Regions from separate parts of the Homo sapiens genome. Here all the other regions are reported to be linked to region 1. Evidence: microRNA targets listed by miRTarBase, many of them from high-throughput screens and not tested one by one. Region 1 holds a microRNA gene; each other region holds the end of a gene's coding sequence.
Evidence for each region. The annotated mature microRNA hsa-miR-567 reads AGUAUGUUCUUCCAGGACAGAAC and lies in region 1 at 3,267-3,289, opposite strand. An mRNA with a match to its seed (bases 2 to 7 or 8) in the 3' UTR can be bound and repressed. Matches are read on the target gene's strand: a 7mer-m8 pairs with bases 2 to 8, a 7mer-A1 pairs with bases 2 to 7 and ends in A, and an 8mer does both.

Region 1 (5,107 bases):
CTTCTCTCTCACAAAAATCCTGGTTTTGCCCTTTTTCCCTACTCAGTCTACTAGCTGACTCCTTCCCATGTGAGAACAGTACCAAGTACCTCCTCTGTGTCCAAAATAACTCATGATGCTGACCTATTCTTCGACCTTTGTAAAACAGACTTCCCCCTCCTAGCCCAGGGCCCCACTCATCTAGGAGGTGAAGAAGACCAAAGATAGGGAAGGGTGAGGGATGATGGACTTAAAAAATTCCTTTATCATTATATTTTAAGTTTTTATTTTTATAAGGCATCCAAATATGCATGCAGTCAGGTCAAAATAATCGCCGTATTTCCAAATTAGAGAATGAGAAGCAAACACACACAAAACCCCTCAGGAATCTAAATTACAATCTAATTTTGGATTCTGCTTCTAAAGCGCACATATACAAACCCCAAATGGACCATAGGCTGGCCTCAGGGAAATACTCGGAATCCCTGAAATTGTCTGTACAATTTTGTGTTGTGGGGAGAAGTAGGTACATTTTTTTTTCCTGGGGAGAAGGTACACAGCTGTCTTCAAATTCTCTAAGGAGCACACAAACCAAACAATTTTAAGAATCTTTGCTCTTTGAAGACTAAGAACATTACCATTGTGGGAAACTAGTTGCCTGGGTAATCACAGGGCGGGGATGGTAATCCCCCAAGCCCACAGCTCATGAGCACGTAGAAACTGGCGTAAGAACTCATTCCATCCCTCTTGGTCCCTCCCAGGGCCCTGGGCCTCTCCCTGACACATTTTCCCTTTCTCTAGAGTTTGCCTCTGAGCTCATCCCCCATCTGCCTGCATGCCTGCGATGAGTCCCTCTTCTTCTTTCCTCACTTCCCAACTGCTTCTCTGTGCACCCTTCCCTTTGAGAGGGCAGTGACACTCACATTCTGAAAACATAAAATGGCTCAAATATTGCACATTCATGCTCTGGAAAGTGGGACATGGGGTCACAGAAAACCCCACATTTTCTCAGCATGTCCCGTCAGAAGAAATGTCTGAGAGAAAGAATGCAATTTCCAGAAGAGCAGAGACTTTGTTCCACTCACAGCTGCCTTCCCAGCACCTGCTGGAGCACCAAGCCCTGGGGAAACAGCTGAGTCTCTTTGGCCAAGCTCAGGGTCTTCTGGGAGCCCTCCTCAGGTCTCACAAGCAGCCTGCCCTTTATCCTGTACTATTTGAACCTCTCAGCCTTGGAAGCCTCTTAAACCTTTCCTCAGACCTCTGCCCATCTCCCTGGCCTCCATTTGGAAAGAGCCAGTAACAATTTTTGCAAGGGGCCTAAGAAAATCAAGACCAACCACACCACAGCAGCAGCCCCCACAGGCATCGCAGGCCTCTTCACATGGGAGGAGGCTGAAGGTTTCTGGGTTTTTTTTTCTTTTGAAATGGAGTTTCACTCTTGTCACCCAGGCTGGAGTGCAATGATGCGATCTCGGCTCACCGCAACCTCTGCCTCCCAGGTTCAAGTGATTCTCCTGCCTCAGTCTCCCGAGTAGCTGGGATTATAAGCACCTGCCACCATGCCCGGCTAATTTTTGTATTTTTAGTAGAGATGGGGTTTCACCATGTTGGCCAGGCTTGTCTCGAACTCCTGACCTCAGGTGATCCAACTGCCTCGGCCTCCCAAAGTGCTGGGATTACAAGCGTGAGCCACCGCGCCTGGCTTTTTTTTTTTTTTTTTTAATTCCTGTAACTGGGGCACAATCTCTTCACTCCACACACATATAGTGTCTGCCTGACCCACAGACACACTTTATTCAGGATGCTCTGTGAGGAAGATCTCCATTTATGAGACTTCCAGTGAGCTAAAATTTGGCCTTCTGAATGGCATTCTTAAGAACTGTTTTACATAACGTTCTGCCTTCTTAGGCCAACATTACTCTTGCCTCTCATCCTCAAGAAACAGTGTCATCATCATAATAAACACCTTGTCTTGTACTATGCACTAACACTTGTGCTTTTAACCCCCTGTTCCATGCTTCTGATTCTAGACCGTTAATGCACCTGCTGCCAACCACAACTACTTCTAATTTGCCTTTCATTCATTCAACTAGTATTTACTGAGAACCTACTCATGTGGAGAAAGTGATTCTGATGGACTGTGGATGAGAACATAAAATATTCAAGATTGTTGGCATTAGGGGCTAAATAAGAGCAAACAAGCCTCCGAGCGAGGTATCAGAAAGTGAGATCAGCAGCAAAGGCCAGAGCTTCACTACAAAGCAATGGAAGGATATTTTGAGGGCTTGAAGCCATTTGGCCTTCTGACCTTCCTTTCTGTCAGGTTTTGTTCTGAGTGTCAAAAGTTCTCAGATTCTGATAAATGGGGTGTTTGTTACATTTATTAAAGAACATATCTATTTCCTTGTTCTGTTCTTAATTTTAAAAGTTGACAAGTAAATTTGTCATAATTTTCTAAGGAAAGGAATAAACTTGTCTTTGTATACCCCTCTATTAATTTCTTAATGGTCTCAGTGGCCTTCAACAGAAAAAGAAATAGGTTCCCCATATTGAGATACTCTTTCAGCAATTTAGCTGTATCATTTATTTCCAATTCTTCAATTCTTACTTCTCTTGTGAAACCACAGTATCTCCATAAAGGTTGCTAATCATGTTGTAAAGTAGGATACAGGGCTTAGAATGTGGGTGAACTGCATGAGGAAACATGTAGCAATGTTCATCTTTATAGTTGAATTATCTTTTCCATAATTGCTCCCCAACTACACTGTCTAATTATGGAGGGCACGGACTGTGTAGCCTCCACAGAGAGGGGAACATCACCTCACAGCAACACCATCTGCTGAGGGGATGAGTGAATAAATGAATAGTCTGACACAGTACCAAGTCACCACAGTTGCCAAATCGAACCAAGCCAATTTGACCCCAATCTGGTTCACCTGTTTATTGTCACAACTCTGACTTCTTTACTTGCTCTACTTACCATAGAGCAAGAGGGATGTTGGATCAAGCCCCAGACTCTCACAACCAGGTATATTCTGATCACGGAAATCCTGTAGCAAAATGCCCAGCACCAACTCCTCACTCATCATATACTTCATAAAATTTTCATCATCTGATGGAACCCCAAATTGCAGGTCATACGTTACTGTGGCATTTTCACCACTGAAAGGCAATGGAAGACATTAAAACATAAACAGCATCATACTGCAACTCAAGAAATGAATTTAAGCAATAACTTTTTTTTTTTTTAGTTTTGCATGTTCTTCCAGTACAAAATAGCAAAGAATGTTCTGTCCTGGAAGAACATACTGTCCTATAAGAATCCTCTTCCATAGATTCATCACAAAAAGTTGAGGTGATCCTAACCTCCTCCTTCCACCTAGTACCTATCCTCTAGGAATCCACTGGGAGAGGCCATCAGAGGTAGAGGTAGAGGTGCCCATCTCCAGTCAAGATGCTGAGAAGATCCCAGGCTTGACCCACCATCTGTCCCAACCCCAGCCTTCATCCCTTAAGGCAAGCCAGGGAAGCCTCCCCTTTTCTCCACACACATTCCTTCTTCATGTTCTCAGCATTGCCCCCACAAAGGTGTGCCAGGGATATTTAGTTTAACCAATTCTTTATTTGACCTATGAAAATGTTTAAGGCACAGCCAAAGTTTCCTACCATTGGCTGGGTCCAGAACTTCTGAACGTTGACAGAGACCACCCTGTGTATCAGCAACAAATCAGGCTTCCCTGGTTTGTCCCCAAAGTGAGAAACTTTTCTGTCCCATTTCCAGAGGCCCCTAGGGCAAGATAACCAAGCCCTGTAACTCTCAGTAATGGGACCTAAGGAAAGGGAATTTTCATCTTCCTAGAACATTTTTTCCCATTTCCAAAATAAAAATAATCAAGGGCTACCCTCCATTAATTAGTGTCTAATGCTACTCTTTAAATGCTACTTCAACATTTAGTTTATTCATAGTTATCCTATTACTTTGGTTTAAGATGGGCCAGATTAAGAACCAGCAATAAAATAATGAGCAGGAGGCCACATCTGAGACTATCACCTTGGGGAAGTTTTGCAGATGCACCAGTCCCATTAGTGTGAATCAGGCCACTGCCCCTGCTAAGGATAGGCAAAGAGCTCCCTCTTCTGGCTACAGGTCACATAGGCCGATACTCTTCGATCTTACAAGGTGGCTGACAATTGAGCTTATAAACTCTACTACGGCTGGGAGATGTGCCAGATCCTGCAGATCAAATGAATAATGGAGAGTCAGGACTCTGAAGAAACTCATAGTTTCAAGGATGCCACTAAAGGAGGGCCAAAAAATGCACTTTCAAACTGCAATCCAGCTAACCTAGTTTGCAGGTGTCATAACTTGTTCCCTGAGCTCTGCCCTCTAATTATCGCTAATGATGATCAACACCTACACAGCCAGCCACCCTGCATTCCCAGGGGCAAGGACTTGGGCTGGCTAATGAAGAGGGCCAGAGTCTGACTTTCAGAAGACCAGGTCAGAAGCTGAATGGGAAAATCAGGCCACCTAGCCTGGCCTGGCCAGCCCATCCTAATCCCCCATGGCAGGTCACAGGGTAAATTTACATGAGGCTGAATTTTGAGAAAAGAGCAACTTTCAGGGCCTTTCGCCCAGCTGCCCACCACTGGAGTGAGTCTAGCAGCTAATAAACCAAAGGGCATTTTTCCAGGTTCTAGCTGGGCCAGTCCAGGGCTGAGGTCACAATGCCCCTGTAGACACAAATGCATGTGCCAGGGATTTAGCCGCCTCCCACCCATGTGCAGCAGCACCCTTTGGGAAGCAATGGCTTTTCTTCCTCAATTCAATACTTTAGGACCTCTGCCTGGACTTCTTGAAATAAAGTGCAGAGATGTCACCGTAAGTACCATGTACACTGGGTCTGTTTTGTTTTGTCTTGTTTGAGTCTCTCTGTGTCACAGGCTGGAGTGCAATGGTGCGATCTCAGCTCACTGCAACCTGCGACTCCCTGGTTCACACAATTCTCCCGCTTCAGCCTCCCAAGTAGCTGGGTTTACAGGCACGCGCCACCACGTCCAGCTAATTTTTGTATTTTTAGTAGACATGGGGTTTCACCATGTTGGCCAGGATGGTCTCAATCTCCTG
Region 2 (5,097 bases), not on the chromosome of region 1:
AAAAAGGTGCACGGGTTTGCATTCATCCTACCATTGACAGAGTCAACTCTCTTATAAAAATAATGTTAATGGAAAGTTCCCCTGATTGCACCTCTCACCACCACCACTAACTCCCAGATCCTGAGGATATAGGGGAATGCTTGCTTTTATAATGGTGTAATTAGAAGTGAATGTGCTTATTTGATACCTAGTGAAAGCTGAATCAATTTTAAAATGCTTTCCTTTTTCTCACCTTTCCCCACCCCCCATCCACGTACCCCCCCTTCCCTCTTGTTTTCCTAGACACAGTGCCAACATAAACCTACATCGTAAACTGTTGACCAAAGAACTCGATGACATGGGCCTGGACTCGTCGCAGCCCTCCCTTAGCAAGGACCTCCGCGATGAATTTTTGGTGAAGATATATGGTGCCCAGCACCCCATGGGGCTCGATGTCAGGGAAGACGCCTCCTCTCCCGCAGGGACTGAAGACTCCCACCTGAACGGGTATGGGAGAGGCATGGCAGAGGACTACATGGTCCTTGACTTGAGCACCACCTCCAGCCTCCAGTCCAGCAGCAGTATCCATTCCTCCAGAGAATCCGACGCAGGCAGCGATGAGGGGATTCTTCTCGATGACATTGACGGGGCGAGTGACAGTGGGGAGTCGGCACACAAGGCCGAGGCCCCTGCCCTCCCTGGCAGCCTAGGGGCTGAAGTTTCAGGATCTCTTATGTTCAGCAGCTTGTCTGGGAGCAATGGTGGGATCATGTGCAACATTTGCCACAAAATGTACAGCAACAAGGGGACCCTGAGAGTGCACTACAAAACTGTGCATTTGAGAGAAATGCACAAGTGCAAAGTCCCAGGTTGCAATATGATGTTTTCCTCTGTACGAAGCCGAAATCGGCACAGTCAGAACCCTAATCTCCACAAAAACATTCCCTTCACTTCAGTAGATTAGTCTCAGAATGGACACTACAAATGCCAGCTCTCACCAGATGGCCTACGTGTTTGAACTGCCATAGTCAGTGTGCGCTTATGTACTTGGGGTGTGTGTGTGTGTGTGTGTGTGTGTGCATTTATGTATGCTCTGTGGCTACATATACACACACGTATTTCCTTGAGATAAACAAGATAAACACTAGGTGCTTTTGAATTTTTTTCACTTCCCTTTATAGTTTTGGGAAAGGAGTGGGATCTTTGATTTCAGGGTGAAAACAGAGTACCCCTTTAAACACACACACACACACATGCACATACACACACACACACACACACACACACAGTGTGCAACTAGCCCCAGTTTTGACAGAATAATTCTTGGTCTTCCCCAAAGAGACAATTTGTTGTACCCATGACTGTTGCCTGCAAAAATAAAAGGGAAAAAAAAGAAAAAAGAAACAAAAAGGAACTTCTTATAGTTGTCTTTTGTGAACTTTAAGGTTTTGAAAGAATCTTCAATTAAAGCATGGCAGATTCACCTGTAAATATTTAGCCTTGAGGGGCCATTGATGTAAAACAATTGTATTGATGGTTGTTTAACTTTTTTGTTTAATTTTTACAGTTACATCCAGCTGTTAGATATGCAGGAAAAGATAGTTTGCTGGCTAGCTCTATTCATTTATGTTAGCATTAATGCACATTTTTAAAAAAAGAAAAAAACATGGTCTTGTTTTTACTACCTGTTAGATATAGTGCTAAAGAGGTGCTGGCATGCTTTACAGCACAGATCTGATTTTTTAAAATGTCCTGTACTAGTACATAAATCCCGTCATGCACTTTTTTTCATACACTACAAGGGGATGTGTAATAACCATGCTTCTTTTTTATCCTTAAACTATTGCCATACTTCAGTAAGTGTCTTTTTTAAAAAAAATTCACTTGTATAAAAATGGTCTGGTCAGTATAGGGCACAAATGCCAAACAAAGTATTAGTGTTAACACAAAACTGCCAACTTTGCACAAGTTTCCAGAAAAGAAAATACAATTAGTCACTCAACATAACCACAGGCCAATTTGTTGGCCACCAGAAAACCGCTTTTTAAAAAAACACTTGGTGATTCTTTCAAGTGCCGAATGTTATTAGAATCAACATTGCATCCTTCTTGCTTATACGTTAAGTTACATAAAAGGAAAACAAAATTATGTGGTGTGAAACAGCCAAGGCATTTATTCTTCAGAGGCAGGATAATATTTCAGGATACAAAAGCCCAAATTACCCGCTACGGAACAAAGATGAATACAGTAAAAGAGTCGAACACTCATTTCCAAGGCCCTAACCCTTATCCTTTAAAAAGAAATCCTCTGAACTGGGTCGGTCTGTTGTATGGCTGTCTAATTTGTTGCAAATTCTGCAGTCGTACTATAATTCAGGCCTGTTTGGTAGACAAAATCAAAAGGCATTTAACAGCAGCAGTACTTGGAAGCTTTGAAAACATGTGCTAAACTTGAATGGAGCAACACTCCTTTCTGAAAAGCCAGAAGAAGGGGGTTTTAAAGCAGGATCTCTCAATGTTCAGTGTTTTGTGTTTCCCCACACGATTTGTCAGAGAGAAATGAAAGCAAGCCTGAAACCAAGCAATTGAGAGTGAGAAAGAGGAGAGAGACTATTCTCCAAACCTTTTTTGTTTTGTTTTGTTTCCGATGTTTACACATGTTGCCTGAGCTGGTTAACCACATCGGCAGCCTCAGCTACCACAACATACTGACTAAATGATGATATTTACTCAAGTTCAGTCTGCAGCCAAAACCATTAGGGTGTGCATTGCAGACTGTTTTGTTGTCTTTTTTTTTTCTTTTTTCCTTTTTTTTTAAGTGGAGGGGAAAAGAAGAGATAAACAAGGAATATTTTGTCAAACAGTACACAATAATTTAAAGAGAATGTATTTCTTTTTTGCATTTAATGGCCTCAGACATTTCTTTCATCAGTCTAAAAGTTAGAAATATCCCTTTATTTTAACTTTTATGTCGTTTCCATTTTTCATGTTTTTGTAATTATTTTTTCTATGTTCACATCAGCATTCACTTCCGTTAAATTTGCCAAAGGAAACTGTTAATATGTTTCTGTTGTTATTATTCCTGTAGGATTTATTGTACCTCACAGTATTTATTGTTTCCCAAAATAAGCATCATTAGTTGGGGATTCAGTATTTTTGTTGTGAAAATTTCAGAAACAATAGATTCTTAAAGATAAGCTAGCTATGTCTAGGAGCTTTATCTTTTCACCTCCTTCAGAGGATGCTATGGGGTCCATTTTAATTCTTCATTTGTTCTACGGGGAGGAAAGACCAAAAGTATTTGCAGTACAAAAGAAACTATATCAAACACTATGTTAAATGACAAGTGTTTATGGTAAAAAGCTGAGGAATTAGTAATAATCGTTTTTGTTTTCTTGTACTTTGAATTCCCCAAAGTCTTAATTGCTTTATTTTGGTGTTGTGTTAAATTGAACAGACAGATGTTTTCCTTTGTTTTATACCATATAAGACTCTGTACAGTATGTTTGTGAAAGATTGAACTAGAATAATGAAAGTTTGTTTGCAAACATTTTGGTCCTCTCAGCGTTCTCTGTGTTGTGCTGTTGCCCCATTACCAAATGGTTAGATTCAAAAAGGGTGGGAAAAGATTTTTAATATCCCAACAAAACATTATAGAAACTCTGGCTTTTGCAGTGTGCATAGACTACATGTAGTTTTATGAAAATAAATACACATTTTTATTTCAGCAACTTTGAAAAGTTACACTCAGTTGAGTTACTAGAACTCATCTTGTACAACAGCAATGTTTAGTCTGTTTAATTTAATGTCAAATAAAAGGTCAGATAGCCCTCGTGAGTGAATTACATAGCTGTCGGCAGTCACATCAGCAAATGCACCAGGCTTAGAACAAATGTTTGTTACTTGCTGCAAACCAAGCTAATGTGTATAGCCAGTTAGAAAAAGTCCAGAAGTAATGAGATTCTAGAAGTAGAGTTTCCCTTGCTTGGAAACATGAATGTGTTCACCTGTGTTTTGTCAGAGAAGTGGCAATAAGTCCTGGACAGCTGACACTTTTTAAGTATCTCCCCTATTTGCTACTACTTTTGTGCCTCAAGTGCCCAGTCGTTACGGTGGCCTTCTAAATGAGTAAATAACATTTTCCAATATAAAGCCTATTTGCTTAAAAGGGACAGGGGAGTGGATGGATGTAGTACATGCAATGGAAAATCATAAAATGTACAATTCTTCTGTTTCCAAAGTATTGCTCGTTCTTGAGTGTGTGCCTGAGTGTCTTGTTTTGACTTAACTAGAATTCTAGTTAAGATGGTGATCCCATGGCTTATTTGCAAACAGGAAGGATAAAGAGATCAGCGTTTTAGTCATGGAGCTCATCTTTGCCCATTCCTACTCATTTGCTTTTTCATAGGAGTTTTTTGTTGTTAAACAGTTTCTCTCAAGCCACATGCATTCTATGCTGGCTGAAAATTAATAGTGATGTAGATGTTCATCCGACAAGCTTTTCCCCATGTGATTGGTTTTAGCCAGAGTTTATCACAGGTACAAAATTAGGCGGTATGACTGTGCATGTTCTCTAGCTGATGTTGAAACTTGTACTGTCTTGATCATTTAAAACTATGTTTTTGTAAATATCAGGTTTAGTCCGCTTTCGGGAATATCTGCATGCTATGGAAAGAGAGAAAAAAAGGATAGATAATGAGGAATTTGGTTTAAAAGTGTGATAAAAATCCTTGGCATTCTTTGTTCTGATATTAATTGTATTTAAATAAGTCAACCCAATGTAACTCATTCCAGATCTTAGTCCAGCTGCCCTGTTCAGCCTGATGCCTTTTAAAGGTTTAAAGGTGTTAATGTTTTCCTTTTCAACATGGCAAACATTTTTTAAAACCTTTTTGGCACAATGGTGCCACTGTCCTCATAGTGTTATTTCTTTGGTCATGAATTTTCAGGCCCTTCCAGTAAGAGGAGAAAGGCACTTAACTGGTTAACAGCCCCATTATTATACATTGCTCTAAGGAAAAAAAAAAAAAAAAAACTTTGAATATATCAAGAATGGGCTATTCCAGAGGCTTCTCCTCAGGAGAAACTATGCACTAGGTTCCCACCAAATACAATGTGA
Region 3 (5,107 bases), not on the chromosome of region 1:
TTTTGATTCGGTAGATCTGCAGTGGGCCTGAAATTCTGCATTTCTGTAAGCTCCCAGGTAATATTGATGCTGCTGGCCCATGGATCACATTTTGAGTAGCAATGATCTGCACCAGTGCTGTCCAATAGAATTTTTGCAGTGATGGAAATTTTCTACATCTGCACTGTCCACTATGGTTACTGAACACTTGAAATGTAGTTAGTGCAACTGAGAAATGGAGTTTCTAATTAAATTAATTTTTTTAAAGAGTAGGGGTCTTGCTCTGCTGCCCAGGCTGGAGGGCAGTAGCATGATCATGGCTCACTGCAGCCTTGAACTCCTGGTCTCAAGCAATCCTCCCACCTCAGCCTTCAGAATAGCTGGGACTACAGGCGCATGCCACCATGCCTAGCTAGTTAAAAAAATTTTTTTTCAGAGACAGGGTCTCACTATGTTGCCGAGGCTGGTCTCAAACTCCTGGCCTGAAGCCATCTTCCCTCCTAAGCCTCCTGAGTCACCGGAATTACAGGCTTGTGCCATTATGCCTGGCTTAATTAAATTACATTTAAATTTAGATAGCCACATGTAGCTACAATATTGGACAGGATAGATCTAGACATTCATGGGTCATTTCTTGTCAGCAAGAACAATATATATCACAATCCCAAATGACCTAATCCATCAATTCACTTAGATTATCCAGCAAGTATCCTTTTACAGAACGCAAACTGTAAAATTAGTGTCTTTAAATTGTTTTCTTCCTAACACTTAGTTAAATGACCCACCATGTATGCTTAAGCGAGAAATGAAAGGGGTCATTTTGTAGTGGGTTAATTGATGGGGAAAGGAAAGTAGAAGGCAGTGAGAATTTCAGCAACCATGATTATATTGGGCATTGGGAAAATGAAGAGCCAGGATGTAGGAAAGAAACTCAGAAAGGGAGGTGAAGAGACACTAAAGAGAAATATTGCATACTCAGGAATTTTATTTAGGTCTGATTCTGTCCCTTTCCTCCTTTAAAAGCAAGTTCTTCCTCAGGAAATGGAACTGAAAGAAAATACATTCTGGCTGATGGCCTCCCCTTCCCTGCCCTCCCACCAGCCCCGATCCTCCAGGTGAGGAAGAGCCTATCAGGGAGAAGAGGTGACAATTCCAGCCATTACAGTCATTGCAGTCAGGTGCAGGTGGGAACTTCTCACCCCAGCTCATGCATAGATCAAAGCATAGAGGCCCCATCCCACTCCCCAAAGCTGTGATCTGATCCCATGGAGAAGCTCTTCCCTACTTTTTATTTTTTTTGGTAACCCCATCCGCTATAAGAAGAGGAATTATTTATGATACTGACAAGAGCCTAAGGAGGCTCTGAAGACCCCCTCCTGGAAACAGGTGTCAGTGAAGTCATTTGGGCCCTGCACAGCCATGCATAGACAAAGCATACAGAGAAAATTGCTCTCATTTAACAAAAAGTATATCCAAATTGTCATTTTATAGAATTTCCCTCATCCAAAGCCATTTGCAGGAAAATTCTAGCTAATTAAGGATTCCATTAAGAGACTCACGCTCTACCAACCGAGCTAGCCAGAAATGCACTGTAGGATTCCATTAACTGAGACTTTACAGCATATACAAAAGATGTCACCTACGAGTGAAAAGCTCACCAAACGAACAAACAAAAATTCAGTCCTTCACATCACACTCTTAAATTTGGGACACATCATAGCTAGACTCTTTTCTATTAGCAAAGGGGAATGGGGGGTGAAAATCAATATAGATATTTATATTAATACATTATTTATGCTAGAGTTCTTCCCCTTCTTTCCCTCACATTTCCTTTTTTTAGTAAAGATGGACAGAGATCTGTAATGTTAGAGAGTTCTGGGAACCTGGCACCTCCTGTTTGGTTGCACAGGAAAGTGTTCACAGGAGCAGGACAGCACTTAGGTGGGACTATCAGAGGGACTGAAAAAGGAGACCTCTGACTTCGTAAGTGCAGATACAATTAGAATAATTGCATAATTCATGACTATTTTTTTTTGAGATTGAGATGGGAGTCTTGCTCTGTCACCCAGGCTAGTAGAGTGCAGTGGTGTGATCTCAGTCACTGCAACCTCCATCTCCTGGGTTCAAGCAATTCTCCTGCCTCAGCCTCCCGAGTAGCTGGGATTACAGGTGCGTGCCACCACACCCGGCTAATTTTTGTATTTTTAGTAGAGATGGGGTTTCATACACTGGTCAGGCTGGTCTCGAACTCCTGACCTCCGGTGATCTACCCACCTAAACCTCCCGAAGTGCTGGGATTACAGGCGTGAGCCACAGCACCCTGCCTCATGACTTTTTAAACTACTTGATATAACTGTCTTTGGAAAATTTCCATTTATTTACAACTTAGGTAAAATATATAGTCAGACATACTTGGTCAGGAATCCCTCAGGGTCATTTATTTTAAAGACATTAAAATTTTGTGATTTTTACTAGTAGTTAAATACCCAAGTTATAAACAAGAGTAAAGTGTCAAACAGTTAAACTCCTTTGATGTAATTAAATAATATGCCTGACAATAGTTCATTTTAAATGCTCGCCTATTAGTATTTCTCTTTAAACACTGGGGAAATAATTGTCTAGAAAATATCAATGATGCCATATCACAAGGTTATATGTATGTAGGTATATATATACACATATAAATGTATATGTGTATGTATGTATATATACACATATATGTGTATATGTATATATCTGTGTGTATATATATCTATTAAGCACCTAGCAGGCTACTTCATAAAAATTGTCACCACTGAGTCAGTACCCTGTTTATTTCTCTTATATACAAATTTTAAAATATTATAATTAATGTTTTGGTATATAATGGCTAAAGAAAGCTTATTTAAGGATATTTTTGTGACTTTTTGATACGTATGCCTTTGGCTTTCAAAGATTTGATCATTGTAATGTTGACTTCTAATAATAAGCTACACTGAAGTACAGTGGTTTAGAAAAAGGAAAATAATATCCACCTGATAAGAATTAAGAATTAAGTGAGATAATAATAATAACAACATAAAGCCCTTAAGAAAAAATTTAAATCCCTTCTGTTTGGAAGATCGTGTCAGAAGTCACTGTAGAGAGCGGGTGAGTCTGGGTTATCTGTCAGTATATAAATCTCAGTTGACACCTCAGGGAATTCCTGGATATCAACACTTTACTATATTATAAATTCAAATAGAATATTAAATAATTATTAAATTGAAATTAAAAATTAGAAACAAAATGTGGAAATTTTGGTTTGGAAAGCTGTAACAAGTTTTGTCAGGTAAGGGAGCATGTAATTTTATGAAAATATCCAGAGAATTTTCTTAACGTGCACGCCTACTGCTTATGATAGATTGAAATAAAATTGACTTGCATGTGATGTATATCATTTGTTGATTATGGCACAGACACACTTTCACAAAGTCTTAGGTACAGAATATTTACGCAAAATCCCACATTAAAAAACAGAAAAGTGCAGTGCCCTTAACCAACAAAAATGTACTTTAGTAATAAATTAAATCCCATTAACATTAAAACTGACATGAAAGCTATTTAAAGTGTTACAGTATTAGATGTGACATGCAAGAAAAAGAAAGACATTTCAGGCAGGAACATCGTGCATTAAGATTTGCATTCATTCATAGTATTGGAAAGGTTTTCAACATATTTGACCACTAAGCACTAGGAGTTGGAGGTGATACCAATCTACATTCAAATCACAACTTAATTTATATTTTAGTCTCCTAACCTATGATTTTAAGAAAATGGCCAATGCCCCCCCGTAATGAAACCTAGGAAGTTTTAACCACATATTGTTATGCAGTTGCACAGTAGGAACATTCCATCAGACCAGATCTATGGAAAGTAAACATTTTGCAATTCCACTGTTTAGACAATGCAATCGTCTCAGATTCCTCCTACCTTATTACCATTGTGAATATATTTGAACATGTCAGGTTTGCACAAAAAGAAAATGGCTTTGTGGAATGTATTGTTCGGCACAAAAATATTTTCTAATACCTCAAATCAAAATTTCACCCACAGCAAAATATCAAGCCACAGAGGTGCTTCAGTGGTGCTTACTTATCTATGCAGAAAACTACAAGAACAGCCACTTGCTTCCAAGGACTTTGTATTAAGTGGCAATAACTTCTCTTCCAAGAAATAGCACCAATATGATTACACCTCCGACTGTGGAGTGCTCCTTCCAAGCTCTTTAATTCCCTGGAGAATTCGCTTCACATGACCCACTTTCGGTATCCCCAGATCCTAAAATAAAAGAACAGAAAAAGGTAGAAATAATTAAAAATGAAAGAAAAAACACAGAAAGAAAATTTTAAAAATGAAAGAAAAGGAAAAAAGTTTATTGAAAATAGAAAATTGGGGATTAAATATTTAACCAGCAAGAAACATAATTAGCATTCAGTTCATTCATTTTAGTTTATATTCAGTGATTCAGGAAGTGAAAGCTAGAAAAATAAGTTCATAAAACAAAAATAACCTGACACCAAAGAATTCCCAACTGGTACAAAAAAAAATCACATTCTACATAAACTCTTAACTGTGACATTCTCATAATTATACACAGTGGCTTTTGACTTCAAAAGTCAAAACCAATTTAGTTTCTTTCTTTCTCTTTCTTTCTTTTCTTTCTTTCTTTCTTTATTTCATCTCTCTCTCTTTCTTTTCTCTTTCTTTCTCTCCCTTTCTTCTTTCTTTCTTTTCTTTCTTTTTCTTCTCTCTCTCCCTCTCTCTCTCTCTCTCTCAAAGGCTCTTTTGGGATCTCTGAGAAAAAAATGATGCGGGACAGCAGGGCACCCACAATTAGTCCTAAGGCAACATTTCTTGTGCTAAAATATTAAATTTAAAAGTGAGACCTAATTCTAGAGAAAGATACCAGTATCTGCTACATAAATTTGGACTGTAAATGCATTTGCAGTTGCATTACAAGGCTTCAATTTGAGAGGAATATTTAATTTAATTAGTCTTTATACTTTGTAATGTATGTGTGTAAAAAATTACTTAAACATAATTATCTGTTGGTTGATGCTTTCCCTCAAAACACTATTGGCTCTTTTCTCTCAAAATTATTATTCTT
Region 4 (5,106 bases), not on the chromosome of region 1:
ATCAACTTTATTCTCTACTTCTACAAATCCTTAAACATCCGTATCAAAGGTCTTTTAAACTTCCAGCATAGTCTTAACTTTGTTAAATTATCAATTCTTTCAGGCAAGTTATCCATCATCTTATAATTTTTGCAAATTTGTATTTGGGTTTGAATCCCAACACTCCATACTAGATGTGCTACCAGAGCAAGTTACAAATCTTTCTAAGTCTCAGTTTTTATAATCTCTAAAATGGACATAATATGGGAACCTACCTCTTAGTGTTGATGTTTAGGTTGAAGTTTAAGAAAATGCACGAAGAATGTGACAAATAGTAAGAACTTACTGCAAGTTATTATCCACTGTTGTTTTATATTCCTTATTATACCAGGAACGTGGGCACACAAAAATGATTTTTTGAAGATGCTAATGTAGAATTAATGTAGAATTGAAATGACAGGCATACTCAGGATGTTGTGAGTGAGATTAAGATTGGAGAAAAAAAGAAAAGAAAAGAAAACCAAAAAAGATGAACTTCCTTTTTCTTGAACCAAATGTATGGGGATGGAAATAGGGTAGCTGGGATCACAGACAGATTTTCACTAAGACACCTCAGATGCTCCTTGGACTCTCACAACAAGCATGTGGGTTGTCTAAATGTTAACACAATGTCTCTTCTTTCCTATTGCAGTATCCGTACCGTCCTGACGTTTTGAGGCAATAGAGATGCCTTCCCCTGTAGCAGTCTTCAGCCTCCTCTACCCTACAAGATCTGGAGCAACAGCTAGGAAATATCATTAATTCAGCTCTTCAGAGATGTTATCAATAAATTACACATGGGGGCTTTCCAAAGAAATGGAAATTGATGGGAAATTATTTTTCAGGAAAATTTAAAATTCAAGTGAGAAGTAAATAAAGTGTTGAACATCAGCTGGGGAATTGAAGCCAACAAACCTTCCTTCTTAACCATTCTACTGTGTCACCTTTGCCATTGAGGAAAAATATTCCTGTGACTTCTTGCATTTTTGGTATCTTCATAATCTTTAGTCATCGAATCCCAGTGGAGGGGACCCTTTTACTTGCCCTGAACATACACATGCTGGGCCATTGTGATTGAAGTCTTCTAACTCTGTCTCAGTTTTCACTGTCGACATTTTCCTTTTTCTAATAAAAATGTACCAAATCCCTGGGGTAAAAGCTAGGGTAAGGTAAAGGATAGACTCACATTTACAAGTAGTGAAGGTCCAAGAGTTCTAAATACAGGAAATTTCTTAGGAACTCAAATAAAATGCCCCACATTTTACTACAGTAAATGGCAGTGTTTTTATGACTTTTATACTATTTCTTTATGGTCGATATACAATTGATTTTTTAAAATAATAGCAGATTTCTTGCTTCATATGACAAAGCCTCAATTACTAATTGTAAAAACTGAACTATTCCCAGAATCATGTTCAAAAAATCTGTAATTTTTGCTGATGAAAGTGCTTCATTGACTAAACAGTATTAGTTTGTGGCTATAAATGATTATTTAGATGATGACTGAAAATGTGTATAAAGTAATTAAAAGTAATATGGTGGCTTTAAGTGTAGAGATGGGATGGCAAATGCTGTGAATGCAGAATGTAAAATTGGTAACTAAGAAATGGCACAAACACCTTAAGCAATATATTTTCCTAGTAGATATATATATACACATACATATATACACATATACAAATGTATATTTTTGCAAAATTGTTTTCAATCTAGAACTTTTCTATTAACTACCATGTCTTAAAATCAAGTCTATAATCCTAGCATTAGTTTAATATTTTGAATATGTAAAGACCTGTGTTAATGCTTTGTTAATGCTTTTCCCACTCTCATTTGTTAATGCTTTCCCACTCTCAGGGGAAGGATTTGCATTTTGAGCTTTATCTCTAAATGTGACATGCAAAGATTATTCCTGGTAAAGGAGGTAGCTGTCTCCAAAAATGCTATTGTTGCAATATCTACATTCTATTTCATATTATGAAAGACCTTAGACATAAAGTAAAATAGTTTATCATTTACTGTGTGATCTTCAGTAAGTCTCTCAGGCTCTCTGAGCTTGTTCATCCTTTGTTTTGAAAAAATTACTCAACCAATCCATTACAGCTTAACCAAGATTAAATGGGATGATGTTAATGAAAGAGCTTCGCCAATTAAGAAGGGCCATGTAAATGTGGGTAACCTGATTGTTTTGTCAAAAATGCTAAAGCGGGGTGGGGGGTGGCGCAGTGGCTTATCCCTGTAATCCCAGCACTTTGGGAGGTCAAGACGGGTGGATGACCTGAGGTCAGGAGTTTGAGACCAGCCTGGTCAACATGGTGAAACCCCATCTCTACTAAAAATACAAAAATTTGCCAGGCATGGTGGCAGGTGGCTGTAATCCCAGCTACTCAGGAGGCTGAGGCAAGAGAATCGCTGGAGCCTGGGAGGCGGAGGTTGCAGTGAGCAGAAATCTTGCCACTGCACAGCAGCCTAGGCGACAAGAGCAAAACTCTGTCAAAAGAAAAGAAAAGAAAATGCTGAAGGAGTTACTCAGGGTCAAGAAAGTTTTCAGAATGTCCGTAAGATAACATCATCATGGGACACTACCTGTTGCTGGGTGCTCTGCGGCTTTTACACTGATGCTGATTGTGTGAGATCCAGAAAAAGAAAATGGAGTTCTACATGCCCATCTCACAGCAGGGTCATCAAATCCTGCTAGTGACACAGAAGCTGACATCCAGCTCCCACCCGCCTTCCTCCCAGGTTCGGGGAGCAGGTAGAGTGGGAGCCATTAGGTGGGCTCTGCCAGTGTTGTCATAGAGTGGCAAGTCCTCCATGGGATGGGAGTGGCATGTGGGAGCCTTCTGCATCATGCACTATGAAAAAAGAAAATTTACTATGGGGCAAGTGGTTCATATAGTTAAGTGATTGTATATATATATATATATATATATATATATATATATATATATATATATACACTATGGGGCAAGTGGTTCATATAGTTAAGTGATTGTATATATATATATATATATATATGTATTCCAGTGTAGAAAGTATTGGCTGGGTCTGTAATCAAGTATTCCACAGAAGTGCCTTCATAGGTGCTGAAACAGGATTATGAGAGTGACAGACACAGGACTGAAGACAGGGAGAAAATGTGCATGGCTGTGAGAATATATTGCTTTGATTCTTTGACTTCTCATGATATATGAAAACAAATAAAGTGGGGGGGGGTGACTTCAATAATATCACGAACATATTTAAAATGAAATTCTGAGCATGGAGAAAAATTTCAAATTCTGGTATAAACAAATAATCTAAAAATATAGATAAGGAAAAAATGTTTTCATTTTTTTGGTCATATTGATTTGGGTCATATATGATTGACCAAAAAAAAAGATATTTCTAAAATCCTGGTGCTTTTTCATTTAAAAATAGACAACCAAAGAGGAAAATGAACAATGATGGAAATTCGTGGAAGAGGAAACTAAAATGGCAAAATAGCATATTAAATGGCACTGAGCCTTGGTGTGATCAAAAAAAAAAATAAAGCAAAATGAGATATTACTGCTTACCTATTAGCTTATGCTGTTGGTAGAAATAAATGTGCATTGTCATAGGTTTCTGACAAACAATTTGTGATTTTTATTAAAATTTTAAACATGCATATCCCAAGCAATATCACACTTGGGAATTGACTCCATAATTATAATTATCTGTGTATAAGAATATAGAAACAAGACTATTAGCAGCAGCCTTACTTGTAGAAGAAACAAAAATTTTTAAACTCTCTGATTGATTGACAGAATAAGGAATGATAACGGAATGATAACTCCCTATTTTGAATGGGAATTTTTTTTTTTTTTTTTTTTGAGACGGAGTCTCGCTGTCGCCCAGGCTGGAGAGCAGTGGCGCGATTTCGGCTCACTGCAGGCTCCGCCCCCCGGGGTTCACGCCATTCTCCTGCCTCAGCCTCCCGAGTAGCTGGGACTACAGGCGCCCGCCACCTCACCCTGCTAATTTTTTGTATTTTTAGTAGAGACGGGGTTTCACAGTATTAGCCAGGATGGTCTCGATCTCCTGACCTCGTGATCCGCTCGCCTCGGCCTCCGAAAGTGCTGGGATTACAAGCGTGAGCCACCGCGCCCGGCCTTGAATGGGAATCTTATTAAAAAAAAAAAAATAGGGGACTGGGCATTGTGGCTCATACCTGTAACCCCGGTGCTTTGGGAGGCCGAGGCAGGTGGATCACTTGAGCTCAGGAGTTCCAGACTAGCCTGGACAACATGGCAAAAACCTGTCTTTACAAAAAAACACAAAAATTAGCCAGGCATAGTGGCATGCAACTGTATTCCCAGCTACTTGGGAGGCTGAGGTGGGAGGATCGCTGGAGCCCAGGAGGCACAGGTTGCAGTGAGCCATGATGGCACCATTGCACTCCAGCTTGGGCAACAAAGCAAGTCCTCATTTCAAAAAAAAAATTTTATCTAAAAATCTGGAGAAATTAATATGAAGCATCAGAAAGTATAAAAAGCAAGGTACAGAATAATGTGTATTACATGATCCAATTTTTGTGAAAGAAAAAACAAAACAAATTAAAATTCCTATTTATTAGTATATAGGTTCATATGAGCATGGAGAAAGACATAGAAATGTATAAAACAGGCTGTTCCCCTCAGAAACCTGGATCTGAAAAGAGTTGAAAAACTAAAGTTAACTTTTGAGCCATAACTGTTTTGAACTAATATTATGTAATTTCTTTACATACTATTTTTGAAAGTCTTGAATAGAGGCAGGACAATGAACTTTAACAATTTCTTCAAGAATGTCAATCGCATTCTTTAATCATTTGTAGGAGCTTGACATCAATATTGTCAGTTATGATGAGATTTATGACTTTATTACTTTTTTACCTCATAAAGAAACAGTAATGAAAGATTCTAGCTGCCAACATGTATATGTAATTGTGAACTAATTTAAAGGTACTGTAATTGAGATTTTAATCACTTAAAAAAAAAAACTGACCACATAAAGGTCAAAATAATATAAACTATCACAGCCACCTCTAAAGCCTTGGGATGATATTACTCATAGAGTCATAGAAATGTT
Region 5 (5,107 bases), not on the chromosome of region 1:
CTGCCACTTGCACTTACATCCCATTGGCCAAAACTAAGTCACATGGCCATGCTCAGCAGCAAATCAGTCTGGGAAATGTAGTCCTACATTTGGGGAAATGCTGTTTGTGGGCAACTGGCAGTCTCTGCTTCAGGAGGGTTGAGAGTGTTAAAAGGGGGAACACTTACACTTTCTGCTTTGTATACTTCTTCATCCTTTCAAGATTTCCATAGTAAGCATGTAGTACCTATAAAAATGTTTTAAATAGATATCTTTGAAAAAAAAACAAAAAAGAAAAACACTTGAAGAAAATACTTCAAAATGTTAATAGAGGTGATTGTGTCTCGGTGAAGAGGTTAGATATCCATGCATCTTTATATTATTCTGTATTTCCAAATTTGACTACAATGAGAATGTGTTATTTTTATATTTAGGAAAAAAAACTCCCTTGCACCCTCTTCCCCCTGCAATAAGGAAAAGAAAGAGCCCAGTCCTGTTCATCTAATGTGGTTCAGAATGTCAGAATTATTTCCATTCCTCTTTTACAGAGCAACAGCCTTCGGCATTCTCAATGGATTATGCAAATTTGGCGCCATCCTGGGAAACACCATCTTTGCTTCTTTTGTTGGGATAACCAAAGTGGTCCCCATCCTTCTGGCTGCTGCTTCTCTGGTTGGGGGTGGCCTGATTGCCCTTCGACTGCCAGAGACTCGAGAACAGGTCCTGATGTGAACAACCTATGGGAAAAGGAAAGGTCGAGAGAATCTTGTCCAGGACACTGAAATGCATCCACACTTCCTGCCTATCACGGTCCGGAGGACACCTTGGATAGCACGGGAGGAGAAGTTGACTTTGTGACCCCTAGTTTAGGACCCACTTCAGCTGTCAATATGTTTGTAACTCAGGTGACTGATTTGGGGGTGCCCTGAGCCACCCTTAGAATCACAGAGCTGCGTGTTTAACTTCAAGTCTTCCCAGTCCAAGGCAGGGAGAGGATTCTCCAGTGAGTGCACACACTATGCGAGGAGCAAGCATTTCTCTAAGTCAAGTGCAAGGACTTAACTTGCGTTTGAAAAGGAATTAGAGGGTCAGAAACACCCAGGTTCCTCCAGAAAGCTCCTTGGAGCCCAACAACTTAACAAATCAACTTGGCTGGAAGTTAGAGTCATTATATGAAGATTGGGCTTGAAGTATATATTTTTGCATTTAAAAGTATCACCTATCATATTTTCCACTCGAAAATTGACATAGTAGCATTGAGGATACTCTGATCTAGAAAGCCAAGTATTTGAGCAACATCTATAGAGATCTACTTTTCTCCTATGTCTCCTAGGCTTTCCATGATAATTAGGTAATACATTTAAGAAGGATATTTATTTCTGTTTTGCTCTATTCAAAGAAACGGAATGGGATAGTTATTCTGTAAACTAAGTTTGTATATAACTTTATTTGGGTTTAATTTCCACAACTGGTATCTGCAAATATTGCCAGCATTTTAGCCATATTTTGGGAGAACTTGGTGTTTGAGGTCCCAGGAAATGAGGTCTGATCAAATGAAATGCAAGCACAATTTCTTACAGCCATTTAACTTTCTGTTGGGAGGATGAATTAACAAACTCACATTGTGCAGTCTGCTTAATCCAGGCACTTTTCTTTGTGCAGGTGTAGTGAGTAGTTACTTCTCTCCCTTACACAGATGACTTGTGAAACTCAAGCTCACCATCTTCAGTGCTGGCATTTTACTTTGCCACTACCCAAAAACAATGTGAGATGTGTTCAGTGGCCTCTGGTACTCTTTGCAGGCAAGAATCAAACAACATGGGGACTGAGGGAAGGATGGGGAAGTGTAGCCACAGTTCTTCCAAATGTAAATACTTTTTGTTTGTTCTAGTGGTAAAATGCAAATGCAATCCATATTTGTTAGGATGGTCAGGTCTCATGAGAAATCTATGCTATGTGTCCAGAGCTTTTGAAACAGAGTCCATTGGAGTGGGAGTTAGGGAGTGTAGTGGATGCCAAATATGTTTTTCTTCAGTGCTTAAGAGAACTGTTTCCTGAAGTCCAGCTTTGAACATAAACAGGGGTGTGGGTTGGGGGAGGAGCTTAGGACAAACCTCTCTGATGAAGGTCAGCAATAGACTGAAGTCTTGACTGCATGGAAGAGGAAAAACATCAGAACTGTCTGACAATGGAGGGGACAGTGAGCTACGCACAACTGCCAGCGGAGGTGAACTTGCACCTGCCCAGGCCGGATGAACATCAGCCTGCAAGAACTAGTTGTTTGAGTTGATTTGCAGTGCTCTCAATGGGCAAGTGCCACATTTTCCCTGGCAGAGATCTCCAAAAATTTAAAACAGAATAATAATGGCTATATCGAGTGTTTTCTCAGTATTGGAGAAATGCTTAGGTCCTATGATAGCTTCGGGACATCTTTCTGTAATTTTCCTCAATTAACGGGTTGGTAGGGGTAAATCTTATGACACCTTTCCACCGTCGATTTGAGATCAGTTTTAATGGTTAAAATGTTTACTCTCCTTCTGTCAACCCTCACCTTTTTATTTACACCCCTCCCTTTTTTTCTGTACAGGGAGAGAAGACATATTGACTCTGACTGGACACCCTGATTCCTCCAAATATATATACCACTGTGTATTAATCTTTCTCTCAGTGTTTTATAGGAGTACTAACATTTATTGCTCTGTCAATAATGAAAGGCTCGATGTAATATAGCTGTAATTTACTTTCCATATGAATACAGTGGCTAGGTTCATAAAAGAGAATTGTGTGAGTCTGGGATTACCACATCTAAAACATTATTCTTTAATGGGATAATACAATTCATTGAGCAGCTACCACTTAAAAAACTTGCAGGACAGTTAGAGCCTGCATTTCTAGTTAAGATGGATCTTGTAAATTTAAAATTGGATTAACATTGGAGTGCTGGGGTGGCTGCAATAATTTGGGGGCTAACTCCATTTGGTTTCCAAGATCTCACTTCTGCATTATCTTTATGGCTCTTTAAACCAGCCACCTAGCCAATCAAGGGCAATTCCCATCTCATCCATCACTCAGGTCTTTGTAAAGGGTGCAGCCAAGCTCTGCAGACTTTTGCAGGATTGTCTAGCCTGAGTACCGGGCTACTTCTTAAATGCCGTCACTCCTGCTGAGATAAATGCGTCTTTAAAAATAGTCTCTGTGGCAGGTCACTGGGGGACAATGTACAGCATTCTGGCCATCCACTTCTTTTTCACTTCATGTTCTACCCCAAGAGACTCCCGATGTCGGCTGTGGAGGGTTAAAGGGATGAGGCTTTCCTTTGTTTAGCAAATCTGTTCACAGTTCTTGATGATGTATTTTATGATGCCCAGCTTGGAAATAGTTGCTTTCCATAGTCTCAACTGTATTGTGTCATCTCCTGATGCTGATTTTTGATCTTTTGTTTTATTAAAAATAATTAGTGAAAGAGGTGTGCCTATCTGTGAAGTTTGTAGTACATCATCCTGAGGTCATGTAACAAGTAAACCCCAACCCAGCGTTCCCTCCTACGTTGTGTTAGTTCATTAAAACTAAATAATAAAAATAACTGTAAGAAAACCTTAAGGACTGGGGTTAGAGATTATTTTCAGGCACTAAGGTCTCTTCTGTATTCCAAAATTGATTGAATCAGCTGGGAGAAACATTGAGAATCGCTTCCTTCAACTTTTATTTTGCAACATGGGGACCTTGAGAGGTTAAACGATGTGGCCCAGATTACATGTAATGTGAGGAGTGGGCGAGAAGGCCTAAGGTGATGCTCTCATGACAGTTCTGGGGAAGCCTGCAGTTTGGGGAATGGGACAATGTGACAAATACTCGCCATTCCCTGAGACCATTCATTGACTATTCCCTTGATGGCTTTACTATAATGAGAGGAAGCATCAGTTTAAACATAAAAAGATTAGTATTTATCCATCCATTTATTCATTCAGCAAATCCTTATTGAGCCCTGACCATGGGCCAGTCTCTCTGCCAAGCCCTGGGGACACAGTGATGAAAAAACTGGCCACAGTTTCTGCTTCCTGCCTCATTCCACTTGCAGTGAGCGGATATTAAATTGGCCATAAACACCGAGTACGATGACCTTACAATCCGCAAACTGCACCTTTCATGTGTAAAAGGATTGCTACTACTTTACTTGTCAGCTGTGGATTTCCAAATGTGGTGGCTCCCTCTTATTTTTTTTTCTTTGAGGAGTGTACCAATTTTTTATCTTTATAAACCAGGTAAGGGAAATGATGCCCTTGCCCATTTTCTACAGACCTAATCGATTTTTACCTAATCAGTTTTACAGAAAGGGTTACATGGAAGAAGAGATAGGGGCCAGGAATGCAAGAGGGACATTGGTGAGTGGGGTAAGAATCCCCGTAGCCCTGGGAAAGGTGTCTCCACTTCCACATCTGGCTTTTCTAGGGGGCATCTGTGCTAACTGACCTGGGATTATGTTGGATGGCATATGACTGCAAATTCAAAGAAACCAATTTATAATAAGTTTATAGTAAGTTAAAGGTTTGTTTTACTCTCATGTGAAGGGAATCTGGAGGAAGGAAAGCCAGGGCTGGAGTGGCTGCCTTTGATCATGGGAGCACACTCCTTCTGCCCGATCATTGGGAGCACACTCCTTCTGCCTGATCGTTGGGAGCACACTCCTGCCTGATCATGGGCGCACGTTCCTTCTGCCTGATCGTTGGGAGCACACTCCTTCTGCCTGATCATGGGAGCACACTCCTTCTGCCTGATCATTGGGAGCACGCTCCTTCTGCCTGATCGTTGGGAGCACACTCTTTCTGCCTGATCGTTGGGAGCACACCCCTTCTGCCTGATCATTGGGAGCACACTCCTTCTGCCTGATCATGGGCACACGCTCCTTCTGCCCGATCATGGGCACACGCTCCTTCTGCCCGATCGTTGGGAGCACACTCCTTCTGCCCAATCATTGGGCTCACGCTCCTTCTGCCCGATCGCTGGGCTCACGCTCCTTCTGCCCGATCTTGGGCGCACGCTCCTTCTGCCCGATCGTTGGGCGCACGCTCCTTCTGCCCGATCGTTGGGCGCATGCTCCTTCTGCCCGATCGTTGGGAGCACGCTCATT

Region 2: miRTarBase lists BNC2 as a target of hsa-miR-567. Seed matches in the 3' UTR shown: 7mer-A1 at 1,237-1,243 and 7mer-m8 at 2,681-2,687.
Region 3: miRTarBase lists DGKH as a target of hsa-miR-567. Seed matches in the 3' UTR shown: 7mer-A1 at 2,677-2,683, 7mer-A1 at 2,673-2,679 and 7mer-A1 at 2,635-2,641.
Region 4: the mRNA of ADH1B is a reported target of hsa-miR-567. Seed matches in the 3' UTR shown: 8mer at 1,067-1,074 and 7mer-A1 at 1,675-1,681.
Region 5: miRTarBase lists SV2B as a target of hsa-miR-567. The part of its 3' UTR that is shown has no 7-base or 8-base seed match.

What each region holds. Positions count from the first base shown.
Region 1 is chr3:112,110,998-112,116,104 of GRCh38, reverse strand. It overlaps MIR567 (microRNA 567), which reads right to left and starts at 3,304; the gene lies at 3,207-3,304. C3orf52 (chromosome 3 open reading frame 52) reads right to left here. Exons shown (of 6, transcript NM_024616.3): 5 at 2,960-3,141. RefSeq lists enhancers at 530-619, 850-899, 910-989, 1,010-1,269.
Region 2 is chr9:16,414,835-16,419,931 of GRCh38, reverse strand. It overlaps BNC2 (basonuclin zinc finger protein 2), which reads left to right. Exons shown (of 7, transcript NM_017637.6): 7 at 283-5,097. The coding sequence ends at 943. LOC124902125 (a long non-coding RNA gene) reads right to left here. Exons shown (of 3, transcript XR_007061425.1): 3 at 4,556-4,643. Among named protein-coding and RNA genes, the nearest start is that of LINC03041, 140 kb to the right of the region's middle.
Region 3 is chr13:42,228,270-42,233,376 of GRCh38, reverse strand. DGKH (diacylglycerol kinase eta) reads right to left here. Exons shown (of 30, transcript NM_178009.5): 30 at 1-4,278. The coding sequence ends at 4,189. Among named protein-coding and RNA genes, the nearest start is that of AKAP11, 41 kb to the left of the region's middle.
Region 4 is chr4:99,303,429-99,308,534 of GRCh38, reverse strand. ADH1B (alcohol dehydrogenase 1B (class I), beta polypeptide) reads left to right here. Exons shown (of 9, transcript NM_000668.6): 9 at 671-3,564. The coding sequence ends at 695. Among named protein-coding and RNA genes, the nearest start is that of ADH1A, 15 kb to the right of the region's middle.
Region 5 is chr15:91,291,842-91,296,948 of GRCh38, forward strand. SV2B (synaptic vesicle glycoprotein 2B) reads left to right here. Exons shown (of 13, transcript NM_001323032.3): 13 at 528-5,107. The coding sequence ends at 711. Among named protein-coding and RNA genes, the nearest start is that of CRAT37, 170 kb to the right of the region's middle. RefSeq lists an enhancer at 1-172.